Linked DNA regions of Homo sapiens: all the other regions are reported to be linked to region 2. The links are microRNA targets in miRTarBase. Many come from high-throughput screens and were not tested one by one. Region 2 holds a microRNA gene; each other region holds the end of a gene's coding sequence.
What was found. The annotated mature microRNA hsa-miR-302e reads UAAGUGCUUCCAUGCUU and lies in region 2 at 4,023-4,039, opposite strand. An mRNA with a match to its seed (bases 2 to 7 or 8) in the 3' UTR can be bound and repressed. Matches are read on the target gene's strand: a 7mer-m8 pairs with bases 2 to 8, a 7mer-A1 pairs with bases 2 to 7 and ends in A, and an 8mer does both.

Region 1 (7,000 bases), not on the chromosome of region 2:
TAAAGGTGGGCCAAGAGCCAGGACGGCCCATCTCTTTCAAGTTAGACTTCAGCAGGGCCAGGAACACAGATGGCTTGAGATGATTCTAAGGCTAGGGAGGGAAGGATGCACAATTATTCCTAACTTTCCTAAGGGGGAACTAAGGCTCCTTTTCCTACTGAGATGAGGCTCCAGAGACTGTGGTGTTCCCAGGGCTACAAAGCTGGGGCAACTGAGTTAAATTCCAATAGCATCCTGACTCCAAAGCCCATCTACAGAAGACCAGCTGAGGGTTTCTTTTTCTAGTTACAGAAGTAATATATCCCTATCACAGATGTCTTGAATTAGACAAAGATATAAAATAGAAATACATAGCTAACATTTGTTGGGTACGTCAAGCATTTTATTCTTTACAAAACCCTGAGGTATAGCTTTTATCATTGCCATTTCTAGTGGAGAGAACCAAAGTGCAGAGAAGTTGGGATTATTTCTTGTACAACACTGGGGTGGCATTGGGCCTGCAGGGGTCATTCAGCAGGTGGCTGCTCAGCTTCGGACTGGGAGGGTGGCTGGCTGACTGGCCATGCCTGAAGCCGAGGCCTTAGCTCTCTGTTGCCTTTCAGATGGCGAGCGGCTGCAGCTGCAGGATGAGGAAGACGACAGCCTGTGTCGCATCTGCATGGATGCCGTCATCGACTGTGTCCTACTGGAGTGTGGGCACATGGTTACCTGCACCAAGTGCGGCAAGCGCATGAGTGAGTGTCCCATCTGCCGGCAGTATGTGGTGCGAGCCGTGCACGTGTTCAAGTCCTGAAACAGGCTCCCCTCACCAGGACAGTCACCCCCAAACTTGACCCCCAACATTTCAATGCACAGAAGGGACTGGAAAGTTATGTTCAAAGGCTGAAGCTATTTTAAAACATTATTTTGACTACTAAGTGGGGACAGAAAGATCCATCCTGAGTTGTGGAAACATTGGTCCATGCCGTGAGCCTGTCTGCCTGTGGACACGTGAGCTTCCCGGGCTCAGCTGGGCTTTATCACACATCCCGTGAACACTCATTGAAGTCAGCCTGTTTGCGCCATGTGGGCATCAGCCACTGCTGTCTTGGGAGGACACTTATCCTGTTCTCTTATTTCCCCTTCATCCTATTTTTAACTTAAACTGCTCAGATGTTTGAAACTTCTGTCCTCTTTGGATGAGATCAGTGTCCACAAGTGGCCGACATGGAACATGCTGAGCAGTGGCTCCTCTGAATGTTCACTTTATTAGTCATGTATATTTTAAATGCTAACATTTGATGAATGTAAGTTTCCACATTGTTGCTGTTTCTGCATTTAAACATAATTGGGAACAACTGACATTCTCTAGTCGACTGCCAGGGCCTTAGACTCCACATGTCCATTTTTGTTCAGGTATAGCTTTTTATAGCAAGGGCTGCATCTAGCTTCTTTTATTAGAAGTGTGTGTGCTAAATTCCTTATTAATGTGTAATCAGTTTACATTGTTTTGTATAGTGAAGGTGTATTTTCAGTGCTACCCGCTAGCTGATTTTAACTTTAGGAATAAAATTAGTTTTAAAAGCTTTTGTTTACATTGTCTTGGTCAGTTCCTAAATCAAGTGACCTGGCCTAGCACCCCTCTTCAGAAGAGATGGTGGGAGCACCTTCAAAGATGTCACATGGGGGCCGGGTGCGGTGGCTCACGCCTGTAATCCTAGGACCTTGTGAGGTTGAGGCTGGAGGAATGCTTGAGCTCACAAGTTCAAGACTAGCTTGGACAACATGGCGAAACCCTGTCTTTGGAAAAAATTAGCCAGGCGTGGTAGTCCCAGCTACTCAGGAGGCTGAGGTAGGAGGATGGCTTGAGCCTTGGGTGTGGAGGTTACAGTGAGCCAAGATCACACCACTGAAATCCAACTTGGGTAACAGAGCCAGACCTTGTCTCAAAAAAAAAAAAAAAGAAAAAAAAGAAAAAAACAATGCCACATGAGCAACAGTGCTTACATTTCCTGCTTGCTTATCAGTAAGGTTAACTGCTGATGTGCTGTTTCTTGTGTCCAGGTATTGCGCTAGGTGCTGTAGTTGCCTCTGCAGTCCTCAAAGCAACTTTCTGAAATAAACATTGCTTTGCTTCTCTAACCTCTGAGAAGTTAGACTTGTCTAAAACCTCATGGTTAAAAAGTGGCTATGCAGAATTTGAACCTAGCTCTGATGCCAGAGTTGCTCTTAACCCTTCCAGTACCACATAAGAAATGAGAAACTTGGGCCAGGTGTGGTGGCTCATGCCTGTAATCCTAGCACTTTGGGAGGCTGAGGCGGGTGGATCATGAGGTCAAGAGTTCGAGACCAGCCTGGTCAACATGGTGAAACTGTCTCAACTAAAAATACGAAAATTAGCTGGGCATGGTGGCGGGTCCCTGTAATCCCAACTACTCAGGAGGCTGAGGCAGGAGAATCGCCTGAAACTGGAAGGCGGAGGTTGCAGTGAGCCAAGATCGTGCCATTGCACTCCAGGCTGGGCGACGAGCGAAACTCCGTCTCAAAAAAAAAAAAAAAAAAAGAGGAACTTGAGCTATTATGCAAAAATGTTGTGAAATCTCTTTTAGGTCCAACTTGACTTGACTCAGGATGGTTGAGTTGAGACCAACTGTCATTTCAGTGCAGCTGGGAGTGGCCACTTCTCAGAGTCTGTTATCTCCTGACTGTGCAGTGAGTAACACATATGGCCTTGGGTGCTCAGAATTTATTAGTCCATCAACAGAGCTGAAAATACCTGTGAACACCAGGAGGCAGATGCCCCTGTGCTTTGGGCAGAAAGTTTGTGTGGCTAATAGTAAAGAAAAAAATTTTCTGCTTTTGAAGATCAAAGCATGTAAATCAAGGCCTCCCACTTGTTTGTCTGCAACCACAATTGGTAGTAACTGGCTTGAGCAGGTCATGGTTTCCCTTTAGAAGCAGCATAAGTTGCCAGAGTTTTGTGGGCACTTGTGCTTTTTGTCTAAACTTTTTTTTTTTTTTTGAGACAGAGTCTCGCTCTGTTGCCCAGGCCGGAGTGCAGTGGCGTGATCTCAGCTCACTGCAAATTCCACCTCCTGGGTTCATGCCATTCTCCTGCCTCAGCCTCCCAAGTAGCTGGGACTACAGGCACCCGCCACCACGCCCGGCTAATTTTTCTGTATATTTAGTAGAGACGGGGTTTCACTGTGTTAGCCAGGATAGTCTCAATCTCCTGACCTCATGATCCACCCGCCTCTTCCTCCCAAAGTAATCTTTTGATGAGACTCTGGAAATCTTAACATTTCCTCCAAATTGGTAACTTGGTGGTGGCAAGTCTTTAAATCCAGGCCATAGAAGCTAAGCAGTAGGTGCTGGTTTTGTCTAAACTTAAATTCAAAAATTCAGATTTATACAGTCTTAGTTTAAAGCAGTTTAATGTTTACTCTTAGATTTGTGTATTAAGTTTTAGTGGCTTCTTTATAGAAAGAGTACAAAATGCTTGGTGGATTTTTTAGATAGTAGTTTGAAGTAACCCTGGTTTATTAGCCAGATAATAGAAATGTCAGACAACAGAAATGTTTAGTGTAACAGGCTTGATACTTGGAAATTGGCTTGTTTGGCAGAGGGCAAGCATTTCCCCCTGGAATTTGAATTTTTAAACTGGCATGCCTTTCTACCCCCTCCCCCCCCTTTTTTTTTTAAAGACAGAGTCTTGCTGTTGCCCACCCAGGCAGAGTACAGTGGCATGATCATAGCTCACTACAGTCTTAACTTCTGGGCTCAAGCAGCCCTCCCGCCTCAGCCTCCCCAGGAGCTGGCATATAATGCATACCACCATGCCTGGATAATTTTAAACAATTTTTTTTTTTTTTTTTTTTTTTTAGACAGAGTCTTGCTCTGTTGCCCAGGCTGAAGTTCAATGGTGCAATCTTGGCTTATCGCAACCTCCGCTTCCCAGGTTCAAGTGATTCTTCTGCCTTTTCCTCCTGAGTAGCTGGGATCACAGGTGCATACTACACTCCCAGCTAATTTTGTATTTTTAATAGAGACAGGGTTTTACCATGTTGGCCAGGCTGGTCTCAAACTCCTGACCTCGGGTGATTCGCCCGCCTCGGCCTCTCAAAGTGCTGGGGTTACAGGTATGAGCCACTGCACCCAGCCCCATGCTGCTTTAAGTAAATTTTTTAAATAGGTCATGTCATATGGATAAGTCTGCAGTGGAATACAGTGAAGTCTCTTTATCCCATCTTCACAATATGAAAGGATGTCATTTGAGGTGCCATGGTGTCTTCCTTTGTAAACATCAGATTCCCTAGAGGAAGGGACAGAGCCTCTTTTCTAGGTTACTAAGCTGTGATTTGACACAGCAAACATTCCCTTGGGTTTATGGTCCTTTCATTACTTCATCAGACATGGCGTGTAGGCTCAGAGTAGTTGCTTGTAGCATTTAGCCTCGGCTGGCCTCATCTTTGGCTCATTTTAAAAATAAAAGAGGCTGGGGACGGTGGCTCATCCCTGTAATCCCAGCACTTTAGGAGGCTGAGACCAGCAGATCACCTGAGGTCAGGAGTTCGAGACCAGCCTGGCCAACATGGTGGGTGAAACCCTATCTCTACTAAAAATACAAAAGTTAACTGGGCATGGTGGCAGGCACCTGTAGTCCCAACTACTGGGGAGGCTGAGGCAGGAGAATTGCTTGAACCTGGGAGGCAGAGGTTGCAGTGAGCTGAGATCATACCACTGCACTCCAGCCTGGACAAGAGCGAGACTCTGTCTCAAAATAAATAAAATAAAATAGGTCTGTACAGAGACCATGGATTTGTACTGAAGTACAATCTTACTGGATTGTTCAGTACTCTTGGGAGAGTTTATGGCCACTGTGTTATACAATGGCCTGTCCTGAAACTACAGATCTGCTGTGTCTCTGCTGTATTGCACATCCATGTGGTGGCTTGGATCCCCAGCCCTGGCAGCCCCTCCCTAGCAGACCTGTGTGCTCCAGGAACCCTTAGAGGAGAAACACTGCCTTCTAACCCTGAGCCCTACTTCCCTTAACTAGTCCCAGTTGCAGCCACAAATCTGTCTTGGCTACTAATGAGTGACTACGGGATCCGTTCACCAGAGAACAATGATTAACCTTAAAGCAATTCTTAAGGAAGAGGATGACTTTACTGGATATCAGGGTAGCTATATTATTAATGTTTGGAGGTTTGGAGAACTCAGGCTGTCAAGAAAACAAATATTACCATTCATGAGGACACTGCATTTTAAACAATCAATCAGGCTTACAAAAGAAAGTCACATTTTTATAAACCATGGAGTGAAGTGGATTCCTGAGTTAAATTCTGGGGTACAGTGGCTTCAAGTGTCTTTAGATTGAGTCAACAAGGGTCTGTGGATTTAAATTAACAGGAGACATGTATCTAGATGAGATCTTTCTCTTTTTTTTTTGAAATGCGGTCTCGCGGTCGCCAGGCTGGAGTATAATGGCGCAATCTCAGCTCACTGCAACCTCCGTGTCCTGGGTTCAAGCGATTCTCCTGTCTCAGCCTCCTGAGTAGCTGGGACTACAGGCATGCACCACCACTCCTGGCTAATTTTTGTATTTTTAGTAGAGATGGGGTTTCACCATATTGTGGTCAGGCTGGTCTTGAACTCCTGACCTCAGGTGATCCCTCCCAAAGTGCTGGATCCACTCCACGTGGCCTTGTCTCATTTTAATTAAAACTGTTTTGCCATAGTAAAAATAAAAGGGACAAATAGAAAACTCAGCCATCAGCAAGAAAAGGCTTCTTCCACAGGGGCAACATCGTACATTGCTCTTATCAATCACTGAGGAAGGAGGTTGGTTACTTTCTCCATCTTCAGATTCACTAGAGCAGTTGTTTCTGTATGTGAATATGACATCGCCAGCAGGGTCCTGTCTTTAAAAAAAATTCCGTAATCTAAAATTACTTCTCACTGGTTTCTGCATCTGCCACTTGGGGAAGCCACCTCATGACCAAGTGTTTCCTACAGCCACCATGGCCCAAGGCTACCTGTACAGGATGCAGCCTCCTGCAGTTGCTCCCACTGTCTCCCAAATCTGGCGAACTTTTAGGCAATGGTAATGGCAAGTAGCCATGGAATTAATTCTGTGTGGTAAGAGGCACACAGACAGATGATGAGCAGCTCTTCTCCTTAAAGAAGTCTGTGTCTAATTCCTACGCGTGGCCGTTGTCAGAGTATAGCTCTTTCCCGTTACCTTTACTAGCCAGAAACAGCTTGCTTGCTTTCTGAAGAAAGAGAAATGACGCACCACAGGGTACATCAGATGAATCAGAAATTACATTGTTTGGACTTCAAAACAGTGTTTACTGACTCTGGGCTTAAACTTCTAGTCCACTCCTAGAACAGAAACCCTCAAAGTTCAAGAGTGGTTTTTTTTGTACAATTGTTTATACAAATTCAACAAAGGTAAAATCGCATCAGGGAAGGTCTAGGAAACACCACCTTACAACAATGGCACTTATAAATGCAGAACTTTACAACTAGGAAATAGCCATGTTACAAACCTAAATGAGAACTCAACTCACACTTCAGAGGAGAGAAGCAAAAGCAAAAGAAAGGCTATGTGGGAGCATTTATTCTACGTCTTGACTCACTGTATAAATTAGATCTATGTAAGTACAAGAGCTCATGCTGGAGCAGAACCTCCTGAGTGCAAAGGCTGAAGTCGAAATTTTAAAATTTGAGAAAAGTGAATTCTCTACAGAGGAAACTTGGCAGAGTATCTTACTTTGACTATAATTTACATTTATCCACAACATGCTCATGTAACTCTTGAGGTACAAAGCAGACTCTCAACTTCCAGTTAAACATGCTTTTAAGTGGAAGGTCTTAGCCTACTTTGTTAGATCTGGGCACATTTGTAGATGGGTTGTGTCGATGAAGTACACGTTAAATTCTCTCCTACCTTAAGGAAATCAGGAAAATTGGCAATCTCAAAACAATAAAAACACTGGTATGCATTCAAACCTTG
Region 2 (11,163 bases):
AGGAGGATCATGTTGACAAAGCTCAGGACTGCAAGAGAGGCTGAGTGTGGTAGCAGGGTTCACAAAGGGGATGCACTCATCATCTATTATTATGTAACAAATTACCCCCACAATGAACAACTTAAAACAGCACACATTTATCATTTCACAATATCTAAGTGTCAGAAATCCAGAAGCAGTTTAGGTGGGTGGTTCTGGTTCAGGGTCTGCCATGAGATTCTAGTCAACTTGCTGGCCAGAGCTGCATCATCTGAAGTCTTGACTGGGGCTGCTTTCAATAATGCCTACTGCTTGGCTACTGGCTGGAAGTCTCAGTTTCTCATCATGCAGCCCTCTCCACAAGGATACTGGGGTATTCTTAAGAAATAGCTGACTATTCCAGAGTGAGTGATGAGAGAGAGAAAAAAAGAAAAAAGCAAGAGAGGAAGCTCAAGACATAAGCCACTGTCTTTTATAACCTAATCTTAGAAGTGATATGCCATCACTTCTGCTGTGTTCTATTGGTTACACACACTAACCCTGGTGCTGTGTGGGAGGGAACCACTCAAGGGAGCAAATGCTAGGACGTGGGGATCACTAGCAGTTATCTTGGAGGCTGGTTTTCAAGTGGGAAATTTCTCCAAACATAGAAAGAGTGTATTAAAGAAGCCCGATGGCCAGAAAGCATGAAAAATATGTATTGAAGCAGGGCTTTCCAATATTTTTTACATTGTGACAGACACGGAAGATGGTGCTAATTTTTCAGCATTCTCTGGTTAAAGGATGAATCCTCCTATGGCCAGAACCGCCCCACAGCTTTGGCCAAACTCATTCTCTCCTGGTTACACCAAGGGCAGAGGGGAACAATATCTTTCACACCTATAACCTGTTGATGTGCTAAAACATCCTAACTGACGCACTTCCTTCTTCCAATATTGCCTCCTACCAATTCTTTCCCCTCAGAGCAGCCATGGCGATCTTTCAATTCATGAGTTTAATCACATTGACTTACTGCTTCAACCCCAAATGCTTCCAATAACACTGGAAATTAAGCCCAAACTCCTTTGTTTGATCCATAGTGCCAGCATAGCTGAGCTCCCTCTACCTTTCTGACATCAGTTTGTGCTACTCTCCCTCTTGCTCAGTTTGTCTCAGTCACATTGTTCTCTCTCTGTCCTCAAATGCAATCAGTTTGTTACTAACTCCCTGATGTTTCACTTGCTTCTTCCTCAACTTTAGGGACACCTTTTCTGCAGGCTCCTTCCTTTCCTTTGCATATTGGCCTATACATCACCTTTTCACAGAGCCTTCCATGTTGACCCTGTCTAAATGCTCTATTTCACATCAATATCCTTCATATCCCTTATCACTATCAGAAACTATCTTGCTCATTCCATTAAATCACAAATATTTATTGAACACCTGCTATATGTCAGAAACAGTTCAGGGTTCTGAGTATCTGTTTGCTTATTGGTTTTTTTTGTTTATTTGTTTTTGTTTTTGTTTTTGCTTACTCCCATCCCCCATTCCCTCTGACAACTAGTATGTTCACTCCCTGAGGCTAGGGACCTTGTCTGCCATGTTCATCACCAAGAATCCAGCATCTAAGACAGTGCCTGACACATAGGAGGTGTCCAGTGAATAACTGTTAAATGAAAGAAGGTGGATAGTGAAGGGCAACACTCAGATCCAGATGGGATAGGGTACTCATGAGAGCATGGGTCAAGAGCTTAGCAAACATGTAAGAACCATGCTGCTCTTTTCTTTTCTCTGGGCATAAAGTAGTTGCTCAGTAATTCAGCCAAGCAAGTTTGTAGACAACAACTTGCCCAGTATTTGACAAAGAGCAGTTTTGTTTTGTTTTGTTTTTAAAAATGCTTGTCTGATGATTGAGTGACCTGGTGTAATTTCAAGAAAAACCCTTAGGAGAAATATATCAAAACCTTTCAATGATTTTGTCTGCAAACATGAAGATTCAAAAGCACCTGAGGAGCCTAACCTTTTCCTGCTGGCTGAAATGAAAATGCATTACCCTTTTATGTAAAATTATAAAGCAACTGAGTTTAAAATGGAGAAGAAGACAGAAGGGCTTAGAAACAGGTCTATAATTTTACGCCAAGTTTAAAATATCTTACCTCGAATTTGTATCCAAGATTTAGGTCTTTACTACCTGTGCTATCTGGTGTAATGAATGGCGACCTTGGCCAAGAGGAATTCCCTGGACTGTTGTCTTTGATCCTTTCCGATCACTTAAGGCTGATGAGTTGAGCACCTCCTGGCTAAATATGGCCTTATCAGTCACTGTGCGCTCCTTAAATGTATAAGGTCAGGTTCTTACCTGTGGGGCATCACATCCCTGAAGGAAGGACAGACAGGCAGATGCCTAGTTAAAGCACAGAGCCATGTAAAAGTTTTTTATAAAATTATAAAACAATGCAAAGGGATGGAGAGAGTAATTCTCTCTAGAAGAACTGGTCTATTATTTGATCATGTGGCCATAAGAAATTTACTTACTATGTCTGGATAGCAGTATTTCAATGGCAAAATAGCATGTTTGACAAGGCAGGACACTTTTTGGGCTCTAATAGTCTAACGTTGAAGTTAGATTAGCTGGTTTCATATGTATTAGTCTCATCTTCCCTACTAGACTATCATCGGGTAGGGATAATATCTCAATCATCTCTCTATCCCAGGGCCCAGAGGGCACTGCCTGTGACTGTAGTAGGCATCCATTGAGTGCACATTGATTGGTTGACTAAAATTCATCTTTCTATCTTACTCTAATATCTTAGAATCTAGTAGAATTCAGCACTCCAAATTGATAGGCTTCAAACAATGGAGTTTAAAGGTATATATAAATGCCTGCAGAGAGCTATTTCTAGCCTAATGCCTTATTTTTGTGAATCTTGATGAAGGGCTCGAAGAGGGCTCTGCACCTCAATTTTACTTTGACAGAAATCTATCTGAAAAGTTTCCTCTTCTGAACTGATCTAAGCCCCTCACCCCTCCATGATCCTCCCTGAGTCTTAACACCTTAGACCTGTGAACATTAATGTAAATGTGTATCTTGAAGGTGTGTCTACATGTGAGAATTTTGTGTGTGTATGCATGCAAGTTGTCTGAGTCTCTCTGAGTGTGTGCTTGTGTGTTTTCTCCATTGAGAGCAAGTTGTCTATGCCCTGCAGAATTCCCAGCCCAACCTCAGAAACCAAAAGCCTTCCTCCAAGTTACAGAGTTTACGCCAGAGAACAAACATGGATGGAGCTCATGTTTCTTGCTTGTCAGTCCTAGGTCTTCATTCCTTATTCCTGGAGGAAGGAATCTATTCATGAAGGTTTAGATGGAGATAACCATGGAAAAGCTACCAGTCTCAGTGTTGTTGGGTTTTGTTTTTGTTTTTGTTTTTGAGTATTAAAAGATAGCAAGCAAGTTTGACTTTTTCTACTGAATAGATGATGTTCTGTCTGTCAGAAAGACTGGTGCCTGGAAAGTTTTTTGCAGACACTTGCTTTAAGTTTATGACTTGCTTTGCTCCCACAGGAGCAAGAAAATGAACCATTTGTTTTTCAAAACACACACACACATAGAACTATAAAATAAAAATTGATGGCCGAATAAGCTGCCCCCCACCCAAGTTTAATTCATACCTGTCTGAGTGTCTGTACAATTTAAGCACTAAGGTATAAGTGGGTCCAAGTCTAGGCTTCCAGAGACTATCCCATGAATATTAATATTAGTCTGGGATTTCCAGCGAACACAAAGTAGCCCAATGTTACACCACTAACACCGTTTCTGGGTCAGGATGACTCCTGAGGCAAAAGAAACTTCTATGCACTGGAGAAGCTTCAGGTTCCTTTTCTTGCCCCCCATCACCCCCACCTTCCCCCAGCACTTGCTGTTTTATTACAGAATTAGTGGGAAGGAGACCATTTGTGGAGCTGTTGCTGTTCTAAGCACTTTACAAATAATAACTCATTGATTCCTCAAAATAATTCTATAAGGTAGGTGCTATTACTACATCCATCTTACCAGTAAGGAAACTGAAGCATGGAAGCACTTACCCAAGGTGAAACAGCCAATAATTAGGAGAGCCAGGTTTCAAACCCAGGCAGTCTGCCTAGAGACTCTATTAACTGTGAAACCACACTATCTGATGGACCAAACCTCTGTGGCAGGCAGATTCCAGAAATGGACTTGTAATGTCAATATTAAATAAAATCACAGTTTTAAATAGAACAAAACTTTGGCAATTATGTATTTTAAGATTAATTAATTTTAAGGATTATAACAAGGCAAATATAAAAATGGAAAACATTGAGAACTTGTTGTAACAGCCCATGGACTATGATTTTTTTAAATGTACTAATAAGAGCAAGGAAACTTCAACGATTTCTCTTCTTTTATCCTCTCATCTTGATATCTCTGGATACAATGCTCCACCATCTGTCCATATATGCCTCAGCTATGTTGAATCCCAGGAATGGAATTCCTTAAAAGCATACATAAAAAGACCTCTGTAGTCTGTTTTGTGTGGTTGGAGGGGAGAGTGACTCCTCTGTATCCTCTGGTAGGTGAAAGCCCTGGACCGCGTAGCATCCTTTGTTAGTGATTTTACTTGAAATCTACCTTCAGGAGCTCTTTTAGGGCAGGCCTGGTGGTGACAAAGAAGACATTTATGCAGCCAAAAAACACATGAAGAAATGCTCATCATCACTGGCCATCAGAGAAATGCAAATCAAAACCACTATGAGATATCATCTCACACCAGTTAGAATGGCAATCATTAAAAAGTCAGGAAACAACAGGTGCTGGAGAGGATGTGGAGAAATAGGAACACTTTTACACTGTTGGTGGGACTGTAAACTAGTTCAACCATTGTGGAAGTCAGTGTGGCGATTCCTCAGGGATCTAGAACTAGAAATACCATTTGACCCAGCCATCCCATTACTGGGTATATACCCAAAGGACTATAAATCATGCTGCTATAAAGACACATGCACACGTATGTTTATTGCGGCACTATTCACAATAGCAAAGACTTGGAACCAACCCAAATGTCCAACAATGATAGACTGGATTAAGAAAATGTGGCACATATACACCATGGAATACTATGCAGCCATAAAAAATGATGAGTTCATGTCCTTTGTAGGGACATGGATGAAATTGGAAACCATCACTCTCAGTAAACTATCGCAAGAACAAAAAACCAAACACCGCATATTCTCACGCATAGGTGGGAATTGAACAATGAGATCACATGGACACAGGAAGGGGAATATCACACTCTGGGGACTGTGGTGGGGTCGGGGGAGGGATAGCATTGGGAGATATACCTAATGTTAGATGACACGTTAGTGGGTGCAGCGCACCAGCATGGCACATGTATACATATGTAACTAACCTGCACAATGTGCACATGTACCCTAAAACTTAGAGTATAATAAAAAAAAAAAAATTTTTACAACTGCACAAATTTTGATAAAAATGAGTTAAAAAAAAAAAAAAAAAAAAAAGAAATCTACCAGACTTTTTAACCAATATTCCTATGTAACTTTTTGCGTTTTCATGTTAGGTCATTGGGAAGTGAGGGAAGGCAAGTCAGAGTTTTCTAGTGAGGCTCTGCTGAGCTTCTGTGTTGTCTCTTCTAAGACATATTGCATATGTACCTTAAGAAATAAGTGAAATCATGAAAATGAATGTTTTGCTATAGTATCCTGTGGCATGTTGCTTTATACTGTGATGCATCCTTGAACATATATCATTGTATTTCTTACACTCTGACTCTATTAAATGTTTTATTCCATTTAGAATCCCAAACATAGTCTTTGCCCAAAGTTGTCAATTATCTGCAACATATACTTGATTATTTTTCCCATTGAATCAATTATCTACTGTTGCATAAGAAATTATCCCAAAACTTATCAACTTAAAATAACAAATATTTATTTTCTCACAGTGTCTGTAGATCAGGAATCCAAGTGTGGCTTAGCTGGGTACTTTTGGTTCAAAGTTTCTTAGGAAGTTGTAGATGAGCTATAAGCCAGGGCTGTGGTCTCATCTGAAGGCTTGTCTAGGGGAGAATTTCCCTTCCAAGCTCATTTATGTGATTGCTTGGATGTTTCCATTCCTCACAGGCTGTTGAATTGGGCCATTGGCTGGAGAGCTTCTCTAGCAGGCTATTGGATGGAGACCTTCTCTAGCAGGCCATTGGAGACCTTTTCCAGTTCCAAGTCAAGTGGGCCTCTACACTGGGAAGCTCGCAACATGGCACCTGGCTTTCCTATGTCCGAGCAAGTAAGAGAATGCCCCAGATGTCAAGAGAGATGGCATCCATAGTATTTTTGTAATCTAATCTTGGAAGTGACATCCCATCACCTCTGCTGTATTCTATTTGCTAAAATTGAATCATTAAATCTAGCCCATAACCAAGGGGAAGTGTTTACACGAAGGCATGGATATCTGGAAGTGGGGCTCTTTGGGTGCCATCTTAGAGGCTGCCCACCACATCCAGTTAGAACAGTCATCCCAACTGTGGGGATTATTGATATTCAAGCATTTATAATCTAGTACTCCCCAAACTCCCCCTCTTTCAAGTCTTATCCTTTGCATAATATGCAAATAAGATGGTTCAAGCAGCCACACCGCACACTGTGTGGAGCACACCTACCTCTACCACTGGTGTAGTACTTTAGATTTCCAGGGAGGGCTTACGTTCCTATGAGTTTCTCCTGAATCCTGCTTCACCCCTGTAACCTGCTCCTGATAGGTTTTCTTTGCTTCTGGTTCTATGTTACCTCTTGCTGTGGACTCTTTTCCTCTTCCTTTGTGGGACTTTCACAAATAACACTAGGTCATTTTAGTTAACAGATTTCCCCCGAAGGCTTGGAGATGATAGGAAGTAATTATAGTCAATAAAGGAAACACCCTCAAATTTAATAGAAGATATCACTATTCCTTGAAATGTACTTGTCCTTCCCCACAATTAGAAATTTCTCACTGCCTGGGACCATCCGTCTGTTTTCTGAGCATGGCTTCAGTGTAAACCTTTTCCACTTTCTACTCAAAGACCAGATATGCCTACATACTTAGGGACAATGAGAAAAGGCAACCTTGGCAAAGACACACAGTCCCTGCCATGCCTTTTCTTCAGAGTGATGGGTGCCTACTCACCTAATATTTACATAATCAAGTAGGACCATTCAAGTGTTGGTTAAGAGAATGTGCTTCAATGTGAATTTCTTTGTCCATCTAGACAAAGGCACATTTGGAAGCTTCTCTTTCTAAACATTTTTAAGGCTCTCTTTTTTCAGGCACTCAGTTATAAGAGTATGATCTTATTTAGAAAGAAGAAACTCCACTATTTATAGAAATATAAGGAAACAAACTTAGAAGCGAGACACAACCAACTGTTAGAGTAATTCCATCTGAGAAGTGAGTTTATTTAGAAGAAGCCCTATAGGCGGGGTCATAGAAGAACTATGTAGTGAGACAGATTTCTGCTTTATATAGTACACATATCTGTATATTTTAAACAATAAAATGTATTATTTTTTGTCATTGTCGTCAAAATTTAAGAATAAAGCATCCTGGCATTAAAGAAAAAGAAAGATCATGAACAAAGAAACAAAGGCCAGCTTCAAAATACTCTTCAGCAATGCCAAGTACTAGAAAATAATGGAACAATATATCACAGTTTTGATGGGAAAAGCTTATGGGAAGAATTTTGTCTTCAGCTGTTTTTCCACACCTGATGGCAACGGAAATAAATTCTCAGATATTCAATGGTTCAGCCGGTATACCACCCTCATATTCAGATGGAAGAAAATTTTTGTATATGCACTCCTATGTCTTATTTCAGCTAACCAGATAAAGACACAAAGAATAAAAAATATATAATTCAGAGTATAAAATTATTAAAGAACATAAATATCAATATAAGAGAGAATTCATTAACCAATCAAAAAGTATTTATTGAATACGAATAATGTATCAGGCATACTTCTAGGATCTTAGTAAATAAATCAGCAAATAAAACAAAGACCTGTGCTCTTAAAGAGCTTTCATCTTAGTTACATAGTGTGCTTGATTGGCCCATTAAAAAGAAAAAAGAAGGATAACCAATAAAGGGCAACCAGAGTGTAAGGAACTTGATGTCCAAGTTATAATTCCCAGAATGACATTTTAGAGATAGATATAAAAGTCTTTACTAAACCAATGAAAATCATACAGTAGTATATTACAAGATAATGTTTAGACTATATTGTGCAGATTTTATTCTTGGAATATAATATTCACTTATTAGTAGCACATTTATTAATATTGTCCATCAGTAATAGGTCAAAGAAAAAAACAACATAATCATCCGGCAGATGCTCTAAAATCATCTCATAAAATTTAATATCCATTCCTGGGAAAAGTCTGAAAAAATAAGCAAGAAAGGAAATTTCCTTAACATTAGGATGAATATCAAAATGTAGAGGCAACATTCTGAAAATTGAAATATCAGAAAAACTTCACTTAAAATTCAGAGACAAAAAAATTATCCTTAATGTCTTCATTATTCAACATTACCTTGTAAATGTGCAATGCAATAAAAGAGCTAAAGCTATTAAAGTAAGCAGAAAAATATTTTACAAATCATTAATTTACTGATCTAGAAGTCCCAAGATATTTTTTTAAAAAATTATTAGAGCTAATAAAAGAAGATAGGAAAATGTTCAGATGCAAGAACAAATATAAAATATTAATAGTTGTTGGTGAAATCAATAATTCAGTCAAAATTATGATGGTGAAATTATTTTATTAATGCCATCATAAATAATTAGGCAAATTTATAAATAACTCTGTGAAAAACAACTTAGAGAACTGTGTGTCATCTATATGAAAATAATTAGAAAACATATGGGGAGATATAATAGCATCATAAATGTAGAGATATACCATGTTTATGAATGGGAATGCTAAATATTATAAAAGAAATTATTTAATTCCTCTGAAATAATTTAAAGGTTTAATGTGACTCAAAGATTTTATTAAGATTATTCTTACTTGACAAAGTGAAAACATAGCTCATTTTAAAAAATATATAGTTTTGAATAGTGAAAAAGTTTCAAAAAGATAATATAAAGTAAGTTGGAAAGGGCAGTAAAGAGAGATTTGTCTTACAAGATAGCAAAACATACAATAAACTTTCAGCTATCAAGATGGTATGTATCTTGGGCAAGAATTGATCAATATAAACATTTAGAAACTGACTTTCATACATGCAAGAATTTAATATACAGTTAAATTTCCATCATAAATCAGTATGTAAAAAGAAGAGTATTCAATAAATAATGCTGGAACAATTGATTATGTACTTGGGGAAAAACAAAGAGAAATCAAAATGACTCAGTGCTATGCTTAAAATTAAGACAAAATCAAACTAAATCAAAGTACACTATTCTAGTAATGAAACTAGAATAAACTATAAATGGGCATTTTTTAGGCTCCAGGAAGGAGAAATTGTTTCTAAGGATGAATATATGGAAGAAATCACAAAGCAAAAATAATAAACAAAACAAAACCAGTAGCTTTAACTTCTTAAAAATCTAAAACCTGTTTCTCAAGAGTTATTATGAAAATAAATTCTAAATATTTGACAAACTGGGGAATTATTTGTAGACAAAGGGCTAATCTTCTTTAAATATTTTTAAAAATTGCTTTCAAATTATAAAGAGACACAGTACTATCTCAGTAGAAAATAGTGAATAAAGGACATGGATGGATAATTCACCAAAGAGGAAGCATAAGAAGCTTTTCCAAAAAATACAGAAAAAAAAGTTTGACCTTTTTAGTCATGAAACATGTGGGTTAGAATAACAATTAAAATGTTTCCTGAATTTAAATATAAAAAAAAGAAAAGCTATAATACTCAGTGAGGATTATACTAGTACTAGATACAATCTTGTCTGGAAAATAATTTTGGAAATATATGCCAAAGGAAGTAGTTATATATTAATATCCTTTGACTTAAATAATTCTTATGTTCTTAAAATAGCAGCTATTGTGGCTTGCGCCTGTAGTCCCAGCTACTCAGGAGGCTGAGGCAGGAGGATCACTTGATGCCAGGCATTCAAGTCTGCAGTGAGCTACAGACGTGCCACTGCACTCCAGCCTGGGCGACAGAGCAAGACTTTGTCTCTAGAATTAAAAAATCAAATAAAATAGCAGCTATTTGAAAAGTTTCATTGTCTAACAATAGGGAAGAATAGTTAAATGTTGATAGATTAATAATAATAAAGTTAAATGTTGATAGATTAAATGCAGATAAATAATATTGTATTTTTACCACAATTATAAATCATATTCTCAAATAAATTATTTAATAACCTCAAAAATATTCAAAATGTAAATGAAAAATTATTTATGTTACATAATCATATTTCTGTGTATCTATGCACACACACCTACAAATACCAATGCATGTGTATACAGAAAAATAACTAGAGGAAAATACTTAAAACCTAATTTTATCTTAATGAATGAATTATGGATGGCTTTTCATTTATTCTCTTTTTTGCAATTTTGAAAATACTATTGAAATAATTTGAAAATAATAAATTGAAAATAATATTGTATTTTTATAATAATTACAGAATTGTTGAAGAAAGCTAAGGGGATACTAGTAGAATACAGGAGATATTTGTTTATGTAGTCATCCAACAAATATAACAAGCATCTACCAGTACCAGGCGTTGTGTTAGGTCCCCAGTATATAAAGGGTCAGCAAAACAATCAGGTGCCTTTCCCTTGTGACTTTACAGTCCTTGTACCTCTCAAGATTTGTATTTCTGGTTTTCAACCTCTTCTTTTCTAATATTATCTCAATCAGAATAAATAGCTTGCATTTTTGTCATACTCAGCAAAAAAATTTAGCTTGCTTCCCCACAAAGAAAACCTAGCAACCAATTCTCTTAACTTCCCATCTTTTTGCTATAATAGGCAGCCCTCCCCTGGAGCTAACTTTTTTCATGAAAGATGATTGTGTCATCAGTAGCAGCCACATTACTAAATGACACCTTCCTTTCTCTCTGATGTGTTAGCAGCCCAGGAGCTCAAGTTAGCAGAAATCTGTGCTGAGGCCTGGAAAAGAATGAATTGTTTCTTTTTTTCTTTTTCTTTTTTTTTTTTTTAGACGGA
Region 3 (10,398 bases), not on the chromosome of region 2:
ACCATCTATAGCCAAGTGCCATATTAAATTTTTGTATGCATGATCTTATTTAACCCACAAGAATATGCCCATTATTACAGCTCTTTCTATATACAAGATAACAAAGACTTAGAGAAGTGATTAAATGCCAGGGTTTCCCTCTGTGAATTGGAGAGCCAGGGTCAAACCCATATCTGACTCCTAAAGTGCAGTCCCAAACTCGGAAGATCACTGTCTCAGTTTAGGTTCCCCCTAAAGCAAGACAGGAGACAGAAATTGAGTGCCGGTGCATTAGTTGGAGGTGATCTTACTAAAGCAGGTGAGGGAAGGAGAAATTGAGACAGGGTAGAAAGGAGAGCCAACAAAGGGTGCATAATTGAGTGGATTGTGGAAACCAGCTCATTCTTGCTGTGGACCCTCTGAGAGACTCTGAAGAGCACACCTCAGCAGTTCCTCTGAAAGGCAAGGAAGCAGCTAAGTATTTGCCCATTCAGTCTATTCCCTCATGGGTTGGGAGCACTATAGCCTACTCCTAGTGCAGCGCCATCACACTCCCATGACCAGGAAACACCCTTGGGCAGAGACCAGGAAGAACTTAGATTCTAGTGAGGCTGGCACATTCGCACCTGTCAACACACAGTTGAAAGGTGTCGTTAGAGAAACACCATCCACTGGTGGAGAACTGTCTGCAGATGACCAGGAGTAAGCCCAGGGCAGTGGTTCTCAACCAAGAGTGATTTTGTTTCCAGGGGACGTTTGGTAATGCCAATGTATTTTTGATTAGGCTGCTATTAGCATCTGACATTTGATAATGTCAAGGTATTTTGAGGGGCTGCTATTAGCATCTCGTTCGTAGAGGTCAAGGATGCTGCTAAACATCTTACAGTGCACAGGACAGTCCCTCACAACAAGGAGCTATCTGGTCCAAGATGTTAGTAGTGCCGACGTTAGAAACCCTGGCCTAGGGTTTACAGATGGAGCATTCACAGGACTTTTTCAGGGAATGTAGATGAGACCCAACAATGATATTTGTAGCAAATAGCTCATTCACAAATGATATTTCAGGCTAGAAGAATAATAGTAGCTGTTTCTTGTCTAACTCTGAATATAAATATAAAATATGCAATGATGCAGAGTAGGCCATTATTCTTCCTAAGTAAGATCCATTAGGGAAAAGAGTAAATGGTGATTTGTATGGTTTTGCTGTCTGGTTGTAACTGGAGTAGGACTTTTGAGTTCCAAAATGTAGATGCTGTGAAGTGACCTTGCGTGAGTCAGTGGAAGGTGATTCTGCTGGCACCCTGCGCATAGGTGAGAAAGAGATGAAGTGGAAAAAGGTCTCAGAGAGCTTTGACTTTAGTGAGTCATCAAAGCAGAAAATGTGGTGTGGTTGTATTTTCATGAGCTTTTCGAATTCTGAAAATGATCAATTTTTAAAATTTTGCTTTAGGAAATGGTTGGAAAGGAGCGCTTTTCAACAAAGCAAAATTTCCTTTTATTCTAAATAACAGCCTCTTAGCTTGAAAATAACCTCTTATTCCCCATTGATTTGGCCTTTTTGCTGATACTGCATACTGCTTTGAGGATGTTATTACCTGTGTGGTAACAGGGAAATCCAAACAAACGATGGTGGCAACGCTGCTGAGGTTGTGGCAGTAACCACTAGGATCTTTGTTTAAAACAAAATCATTGCTTGAGCTGTGTGATTATTATGTACAAAAGAGAGTCCAGATCTGAGCTGGACATATTCAGAAAACAAGAAGTTTATTCTTGTAAAAAGCACCTGAAAATAAATTTCATCATGGATTTTAAATGCTGGATCAAGGACTATGATGAAGATGTATAAAAGGGGTATTATATCCTCTGATGCCCTCAGTGGTAGAATTGTTTGGTTTTTTGGCTTTTATTTCCCATGATGCTTCATCTCTGCAGAGTTCAAACTTCTAATCCTTAAAACACCCTCCAAAGTGAATATGCATATGATAGTAGGTAGAATAGACCATTAATGCCCATTACAAATGTCCTCCATTGATAGCATGCTGGGCCACTGCTGGGTATGAGTGTTTCCCAGGCTCTGGCTCATTAGTTCCCATCTTTTTTTTTTTTTTTTTTTTTTTTGAGACAGAGTCTCACTCTGTTACCCAGGCTGGATTCTCCTGCCTCAGCCTCCTGAGTGGCTGGGATTACAGGTACGCACCACCACGCCTGGTTAATTTTTGTATTTTCACTAGAGACGAGGTTTCACCACGTTGGTGAGGCTGGTCTCAAACTCCTGACCTCAAGTGATCCACCCGCCTTGGCCTCCCAAAGTGCTGGGATTACAGGTGTGAGCCACCACACTGGGCTTTGCCCCAACCTTGATCACAAAAATAATAGTCATATGGAGACCAGGAAGGTAGAGAAAAAGAGAGTGCTAGGTAAATGGTGGAGATTGCAACTTAAGATAAGGTGGTTAGGGAAGGCCTTCCTGAGAAAATGACATTTGAACAAAAACCCACATGGGTGAGATTGAAAACCGTGGAATCACCTGGAGAAAATGCATGTTGAGCAAAGGAAATAGCATAAAGGCCTTGAGATGAAAGGCTGAATGCCTGAGGAATAGCAAGGAGGCCAGTATGGCTGGAGCAGAATGTGTAAGGTGGAAAGAAGTGGGAAATGAAGTCGGAGAGAAGGGGTAGAGGAGGAATGAATTGTGTAAGCCTTCTTAGCCCATCAGTAAAGACATTGGCTTTTACTCTAAGATGAGAACTTACTCAAGAGCTTTGAGCATGGGTGGCATGATCTGACTTAACATTTTTAGAGGATTACTCTACTGTAGCTGCAACATGGAGAATAAGCTAGGAGGGCAAAGATAGGAAACCGGAAGGTCAATTAGGATGCTCCTGCAATAAACCAGGAGAGAAATGATTGACTTGGACAAGGGTAGTAACCGTGAATGTGAGGAGAAGGTATCAGACTGATATATTTTGAAGGTCAAGCCAGCAGTACTTGCCGGCCAGTTGATTTGCTGATGGGCCAAAATTTTTGGCCTGAACAACAAGAATATGTATTTGCCATTTACTGAGGTAGAAAAGCCTAGGAGAGAAGCAGTTTGCAAATGGAGATCAGGGGTTTGTTTGGGGACATGTTACATTTGGTTTAGGGTATTTTAAAGACTCCTATTGGATATCCACATGGAGATTTTAATGGGCACTGGATATATGAATTTGGAGGTAAGGGATGATGTACAGGCTGCAGATATAACTATAAAAATCATCAGTTTACACATGGCATTTAAATTCCTGAGACTGCATTAAAGCAGCATGCATTTCTGGTTTTAGTGGGGACAATCTGAGCCATGAAATAGAGCTGTGTCTGTTGGTGTACGGCGAGATCTCCCTGTGAATCAAGCAGACCTCAGAAGCCCTGCTCCACCATCTGTGAAAACATTGCCAGTAACCCCTGGAGAAGTATCCAGAAGAACTGCTCATATTAAACGAACTAGGTGTGACCAAAACTGCATATATGGCTCCGGTGAATTTCCAAGGCATACAATACAAGATCAAAGAGGAAATAGTTCTGGAATTATGCAAGGGACCAAGAATTCATGAGTCAGGAGTGTGTTAAAAAAAGCATTGTAGGGATATAGAAAATCATCCAGAATGAGCGGTACAATTAAGAAGAGAGAGAAAATATGATCACAGGACCTCAACAGACCTTTGTTGATTTTCTCAGAAGATAGGAAAAAAGAAACTGAAGGAAAGCTGCCGCCAACTTTTCCCCCTCCATTGTGCCTAGATGGGGGGAGAAGGGGATGTAAACAGCAGGGCAGGGTTCAGGTAGGGTGACTAGCCCTCACTGGTTCCCAGGGACTGAGGGGTTTTCTGGGACACAGGACTTTCAGTGCTGAAATCAGGGCAGTCCTGAGCAAACCAAGATAGTTGGCCACCCTGGCTTCAGGCCAGAAGGAAGGCTTCCTGGAACTGAACAATTTGGCAGTGGAATAGAAAACAACTTATTTACTATTTAATTTGAGTCTGATAGATGAAATTAAAATCTGTAAGTGATGATTTCCCACCCTGAGTGCTCACATGCTTAACCCTTTAATTTCTGGAGGGATTTCAGAATCCCTCTTAGCAAGCAGTGATTTCTGATAGGACCATTCAATGTAGCCCCATGGTTTGGAGGGGAAATGTTAAGATCAAAAGGAGTGGATATGACACACAGAGGGATATCATAATAACTCAGGACAGGCTGCTGGGGTCTTTTGAGGCTAAAGGACCATCTCTGCAGACAGGCAGGGCCCAGTCTTGGAGGTCTCTATTAAGAACCTTATGGGCATGTTTTTTGTGGCCACATGGTGGGAAACTGAAGTGCCAGGGCCTCCCCCATTTACATGCTGCCATTGTGAGCAGTCTGTGCTCCTTAACATATGCTGATCCTGCTCTCTGCTGAGACCCTGTGTGAGCTCTTGTCTCTGCCTGGAATTTACTTTTGGTCCAACCAATGCACACACACACACACACACACACACACACACACACACACACACACTCCAGAGCTCAGCCGAGACATCATTTGCGGTGCTTTTCCTATGGTCACCTAAGCTCGCTCTTGAATTTTAGGAGCCCCCATCACGATGTGGTATCATTGCCTCTGCTGGTCTGTCTTCCCCCAATCAGTTAGGGCAGCAGTTAGGTTATATCTTGTAATATAACCTACTGCCAGGTACAGGGTAAATGTGTAATAATCATTTGAATGACAGGGAGGAAATCCTCCTCTTGTTAGGTATTCTTTGCTACATATATAATCACTTTTTCCCAACAACTGCTAGTTCCTGGGTGTGAGTCAAATCCACAACATATTATGTTAGATAGAGGATATTCTGTAACAGTGAGCAAGGAACTAAGAAAAAGATAGGTACTGAGCACAATTGCTGAATATGACAGGTTCTGGTCTGGTCTATCTTTTCTTTCTTTTTTTTTTTTTTTTTTTTTAGAGACAGAGTCTCTCTCTGTTGCCCAGGTTGGAGTGCAGTGGCACAATCATGGTTCACTACAGCCTTGAACTTCCGGGCTCAAATGATTCTCCCACCTTGGCCTCCCAAAGTACTGGGATCACAGGCATGTAGCACTGCACCCAGCTATCCTTTTTTTTTTCTTTTTTTTAAGCAATAATTTTAATTGTTCCTTCCCTTCACCTCCCAGTTTCTGTCCTTACACGCTCACATCCTCTAGAGCTTGGCTATAAAAGTTAACGAGGTAGCAGTTGCAAGCATTAGCAAGATGCTTTCGGCAGTTTGCCAAAAGCCAGGGAGCCCATCTTGAAAAGAACGTAGTCACCCCCTGCCGTCATGCCCTGACTGCCCAGCATTCTGCGTGAGTGGCAAAGCCCAACTCAGGAACACAAAGCAAAAGACAGCACAGCACACACATGAACTTTTGCCACTTTTGTATTTTATTGTGGAACTGAGTTTTTTTTTTTCCTTTACATCAAATATCCTCAATGGAAGAGGGGATATTGCACACAAATATCATAAAAGCACTACATATTACTTTCACTGGAAACTAATTTTCTACATTAGATATGACTGGATAGGATAGAAGTGATGCAGGATTATAAGACATAATACCATACACAGCTGCAGACTGACACAAACACCATTCAGAACAAGAGAGAGGAGTGTGAAGTGCTTCTCAGCTGGGCTCAAGACCACTTCTTTCCAGTGCTGGAAAGAGGGGCTGCATGCAGTGTAGGAAAAGCGTGTCTCTGAACTGCCACAGGGTGTTCTCGAAAGGGCAGCCCGGTCTTGATGCCACTTCTCCATGGCTCCTGTTTTGGGGAGCTCCAAACAAGTGCAGAGAAGCTGCCTATTTTTTCCCTTCCTTTTCAGTTTTTGATGCTGCCTTTAAAAATCAACTTCATGAAGTCACAGATTTTTTAACAGTAAATAGTTTTAATACCAGGTGAATAACCTAATTGCTTTCAAAGAAATGCTCATCCCTAGGCTGCTTTTGGTGTATTGTTCAGTTGGTTAAAAGATAAAAGCTTACAGTTCCTTTCAAATGGAAACAGGATCTTTTCTTCTAAATCTGAAGCACAAAAAAAAAAAGTTATTATCCTAACTCACAATATCATTACTGAGCAGGAACCTCCTGTGACAGGTGACTAAAGAGAGGCAAGAAAAGCAAATTCAGAATTGTAGAGCAGCTCCTAAGAGCTGAAATTTGGTAACAGAGGGAAAATGAAAGGTGGTAAGATTTCCATTAGCAAATGATTAAATCTTAATTAAATGAGTATTGGAAAGCTCCTAGACTGCATAAGCTATTGGAGACACTTAAAACATTCATATACACTGGGGAAACCATTCACTATGATATGTAACGTTAAGAAAAAAAATTTTTTTGAACTCCATGGAAAATGGTGTTTAAAGAGGGGAGGAGGGGAAGTTAGTCATTGTATCCAGTCCCACCACAAGACTGAGAAAGCATGCACAGGGCTCAGGGTTTTGAGAAAGGGGACAGAATTGGTTAAAATTGAAAATGGAGGATCATCGCTAACATTTAGTCTCTGTAGAATTTTGTTTAAGAATACTACCAAAAAGGTCATGATCATGAGTGCTATCTCGATAGAATCCCATCATTTAAACAGAGTGTAAATTCCTTCCACTCAAATATTCAATCTATACAATTGGATTAAGTAATCAGTATGAACAAAGCTCCTAGAAGTCTGTGTCGATCTTTAGCTCTCACCATGAATGTACATGGTACATTGTGATGGCTGTTACTAAACTAATCGTGTATTTATGGAACTAGCAAAATTAGGTTAGTCACACAGGCAGGAAAGGTGTCTGGAAGGACAGGAGCAACCTGTAATGCGAATATTGGTTTTCTTGGTATACTCAGGCTCTGTGGTCATATTGAGAACAACGGATGGAGAAAGGTACTGATAGATTTCATAGGAAAAAGAGCCAGCTGACTAGTGACAGTTTTTACATATTTTTCCCATTAAATCCCATAGCAAAAAAAAAAAAAAAAAAAAAGAGAGAGAGAGAGAGAAAGTGAGGAGGGTGGAGTGGTTATAACTGAAGACTGGCTATAATTCTCCTACAATGTTTATAGTTTTTAAAGCAAAATAATGTTCAGGTTAAATACATTTAATTGTGAAATTGGAAAATAACTTGCATCTTCTGTCAAAGAAAAATCAACCAGAGGTCTGGATTTGGCAAGAAGGCTAAAAATCTGGTTTTCTTCCCACGCATTATGTAGACCAATTCAACTTAAGAGCTAACCATTAAATAATTATCTTGAGTATCTTAGGTTGTGTTATAAAATAAATTTGAAGTAGATGAGTTTATACTCAATGAAATTCATTGGCGTCACAATGACTTTTCCATCATGTGTTAATTTCTTGTACCCTTAATATGTTATTTTCCAAGGACTTGAAAGAAATGGGGTAATAAATAAAAGCTGCATTTCTAGAGAAGCCTAACAAAAATAGAATATTAATTTTCTTTAAAAAATTAAACATTTGAAAAATGTAATTCACAGCATTAAGTAGACTGCATAGGTCCTCAGTGAAAGGACCCTGAAGAAGCATTTTTTTAAACCCTCATCATAGTTAGCAGTGCAAAACATAGACTTATCAGACAAAAATCAACTAAAATGTTAATTTTGAAATAAATAACTAACATAGAAAATAAAATGAGGTCATTGTTCTCTACTCCGTAGATCTTAGAGTCTGCAGGAAATGTAATGTGACAGAGCACAGCACAGTTGTCACGGAGAAGTTTGCCTCATCTGAACACTGGGTGCATTGATCTGCAACTTGAAACTTGATGTCAGTGTTAATCATGATCTGGCTTCCCAGGTTCACAGTTCAATGATGACAATGATGGAAATTTTCTCTAAACTCTACATGAACCGTAGGAGTTGAGAATTCATTTGTTTTCAATGTACTATTTCTTTTATTTTTTTTTTCCAGAAAAGAAAATCCCAAAGCAAATTTGTGCTAGGGTTCTTTGAACTTGGCTCTTTTACCTCATGGTTGAAGATCTTGAAAGAAGTATGTAGGATACCACTGGGTGATGTACTTGTCAAGGCCCTGAAAAGTAGCCTACCATGCCATTCTCCCCCACTCTCAAGTAGCACTTTTATGTTATGGGAATCAAGGGGTGGGAGGTATCATTATTCCTGGTAGTTATGGGTTTTTAATAAATATCATTACTGCAATATCAGACTTCAATCTTGCCAGAACTTCAAAAAACATTATTCAATTTTTGTCTTACGAAACACTTAAAAAAAAAGACTATCACTTGAGAATTTTCTTTGCAATTTCCTGTAAATGAAAACATTTGTTAAAAAGTTCATCTATGAAAAGTTCTCACATATCTTAAAAAAAAAATTCTTCTGTACACTTGTTCCCATAATTATGTTGAAATTAATGGAAAATTTAAAAAGCCAATGTAAGACAAAGGAAGGTAAATACTGTACACTTGCTGAGAACCTCTTCCACCATAAGATTCACTGTTTTCCCAGTTCTGATCATAGAAGCCATTTCAGTCTTGAACTTGCAGTAGTAAAGAAGCTGTGAAAGGCACAACTTGTTTGACTGAGAGGCCACAGGTGCACTGAAGTGGGATTCAACACGCATGACTCAGCATCAAACTGTTGGACCAATCAGATCAGCTTCTAGTACCCCCACACACGCTCACCCACGTGTTCCTTTAAGTATCTATAATCCTATATGGATGTTTTATAAACTTGCTGTCTCACATTAAAAAATAAGTGCATCAAGTATCTTTGTACATTCAAGTCACTTCCTAAGGCAAATTGTCTACCATATGTACTCCCAACTGCTTTGGTATTTGCTTCAGTTAATTGGGGTGGACTTGGGTGTTGCTGCATGCAGGTTAATCGACTCAGAGTGGACTAAGTGGGTGGACAAATGCTGGGAGCATGCCTTAGATCAATCTACTTGTGTGTTTAGAGTCTGAGAGTTCTGAATGGGGCCCAAACCACTTGCATGGCCAGTCTACACTCACTACATTATGTCAGTGTGCAGCCTTCAAACTGAAGGAGCTTAATTAAGATGTGAAAATATCACATGCCCTCATAACAAGTGTTGTTCTTTTTACTTTCTTCTAGCCAACTTGTTTTAGAAAATTAAGACTCTTTTTGATGACTCAGACTGACAAAAATGGAAAACTTTGCCTATGTAGACTAAAGAATGCCTACTGCCTGAGAAAATGCAGACCTAATTGTTGGTTTATTTTCTCCTCCTTACCCCACCCTGCTCTCTCTTTTTCTCTCTGGGTATCTCACCAGAACTCTCTGTCATTACATCTCCTTCTCTTGCATTCCTTTTCTTTCTCATTCTTTCTCTCTCTCTCTCCTGCGTTATCTTTGTGCTCTCACTCTCTCTCACTCTCTCCCGCGCTCTCTCTCTCTCTAAGACAAATGCCTCTACCTAGCAGAAGTCAGTTGGGTTGGCTAGTGCATGGTTTCCAAATGTTCAGCAGAGATGAACTGGGGTAGGTAATTTTGCAGGAATTTGAACCCTATTGTGGAAATACTGTTATTTCCCTTAGCAATCAGCAAAAACTGAGAAATTTAGTGACTTGCATCACCATGACACAGTATAGCATTTGGCAGGTAATTGTTCAGCGACTTAACTAGATGAATTGACTTTTTAGAAAAGGTGATTTCAAATTGAAGAATTTCTGGAAACAAAGTTCAGATCCTGTGGTGTGGCTGGCCTTGGTTTTTACAGTTCAATCTTGCATGCAGGGAAGGATTCATCTTGCATAACCACTGTGCTGCTGCTTGCTAAAACCATGATGTTGAGATCTTGCTGTTTCTCATGGGTCTCCTGGTACCATTCCCTCATCACTTCTGAGTCATGAGTTGGGATCAGTGTCACCTGCAGGGAGAGAAAAAAAAAATAGCTATTTAAGGGCAGAAACAGAAACCATATGAAAAAAATTGAATAGCAAGGTATTAGACCACTGGAAGAAGAAGGGAAATGAGAGAAAACTTTTCTATTTTCCTCAAGAAATGCAAAGGATTTTTCAATGTATATTTTCCAGGAACCAGAATAAAGCTGCAAAGAAAAGCTATTGTTTCTAAGGGAAACTGAAGGCTGGAACCAAAAAGCAATTAATCAGTTTCTCAGTTCTTTACTGTTAAGAGAAGTGCTTCCGTTAGGGTACAATTTTTTGTATTTCCTTTAACACAACTGGTAAGTTTTGCATAAAAGATATTGCATATTTAATCCAAGGATTTTATCGCGCACTTCAAAGCCCTCAAAAGCCCACTCATTGTGAGTAACTAACATTTTGTCCTGAGAACAAAGATCTGCACCTTTACTTTATGTGTGTGGTTGGGGATGGAGGTATGGGGTGGGTAAGTAATGTCCTGAATAGTATAAATTCCATCTAGC

Region 1: miRTarBase lists RNF34 as a target of hsa-miR-302e. The part of its 3' UTR that is shown has no 7-base or 8-base seed match.
Region 3: the mRNA of MAP1B is a reported target of hsa-miR-302e. Seed matches in the 3' UTR shown: 7mer-A1 at 8,742-8,748 and 7mer-m8 at 5,646-5,652.

Annotation. Positions count from the first base shown.
Region 1 is chr12:121,422,784-121,429,783 of GRCh38, forward strand. RNF34 (ring finger protein 34) reads left to right here. Exons shown (of 6, transcript NM_025126.4): 6 at 603-1,565. The coding sequence ends at 793. It overlaps KDM2B (lysine demethylase 2B), which reads right to left. Exons shown (of 23, transcript NM_032590.5): 23 at 6,313-7,000. Among named protein-coding and RNA genes, the nearest start is that of MIR7107, 18 kb to the right of the region's middle. RefSeq lists an enhancer at 2,727-2,806.
Region 2 is chr11:7,227,647-7,238,809 of GRCh38, reverse strand. MIR302E (microRNA 302e) reads right to left here and starts at 4,044; the gene lies at 3,973-4,044. It also overlaps a transcript of SYT9 not described here.
Region 3 is chr5:72,204,565-72,214,962 of GRCh38, reverse strand. MAP1B (microtubule associated protein 1B) reads right to left here. Exons shown (of 7, transcript NM_005909.5): 7 at 5,398-9,879. The coding sequence ends at 9,724. Among named protein-coding and RNA genes, the nearest start is that of MIR4803, 40 kb to the right of the region's middle.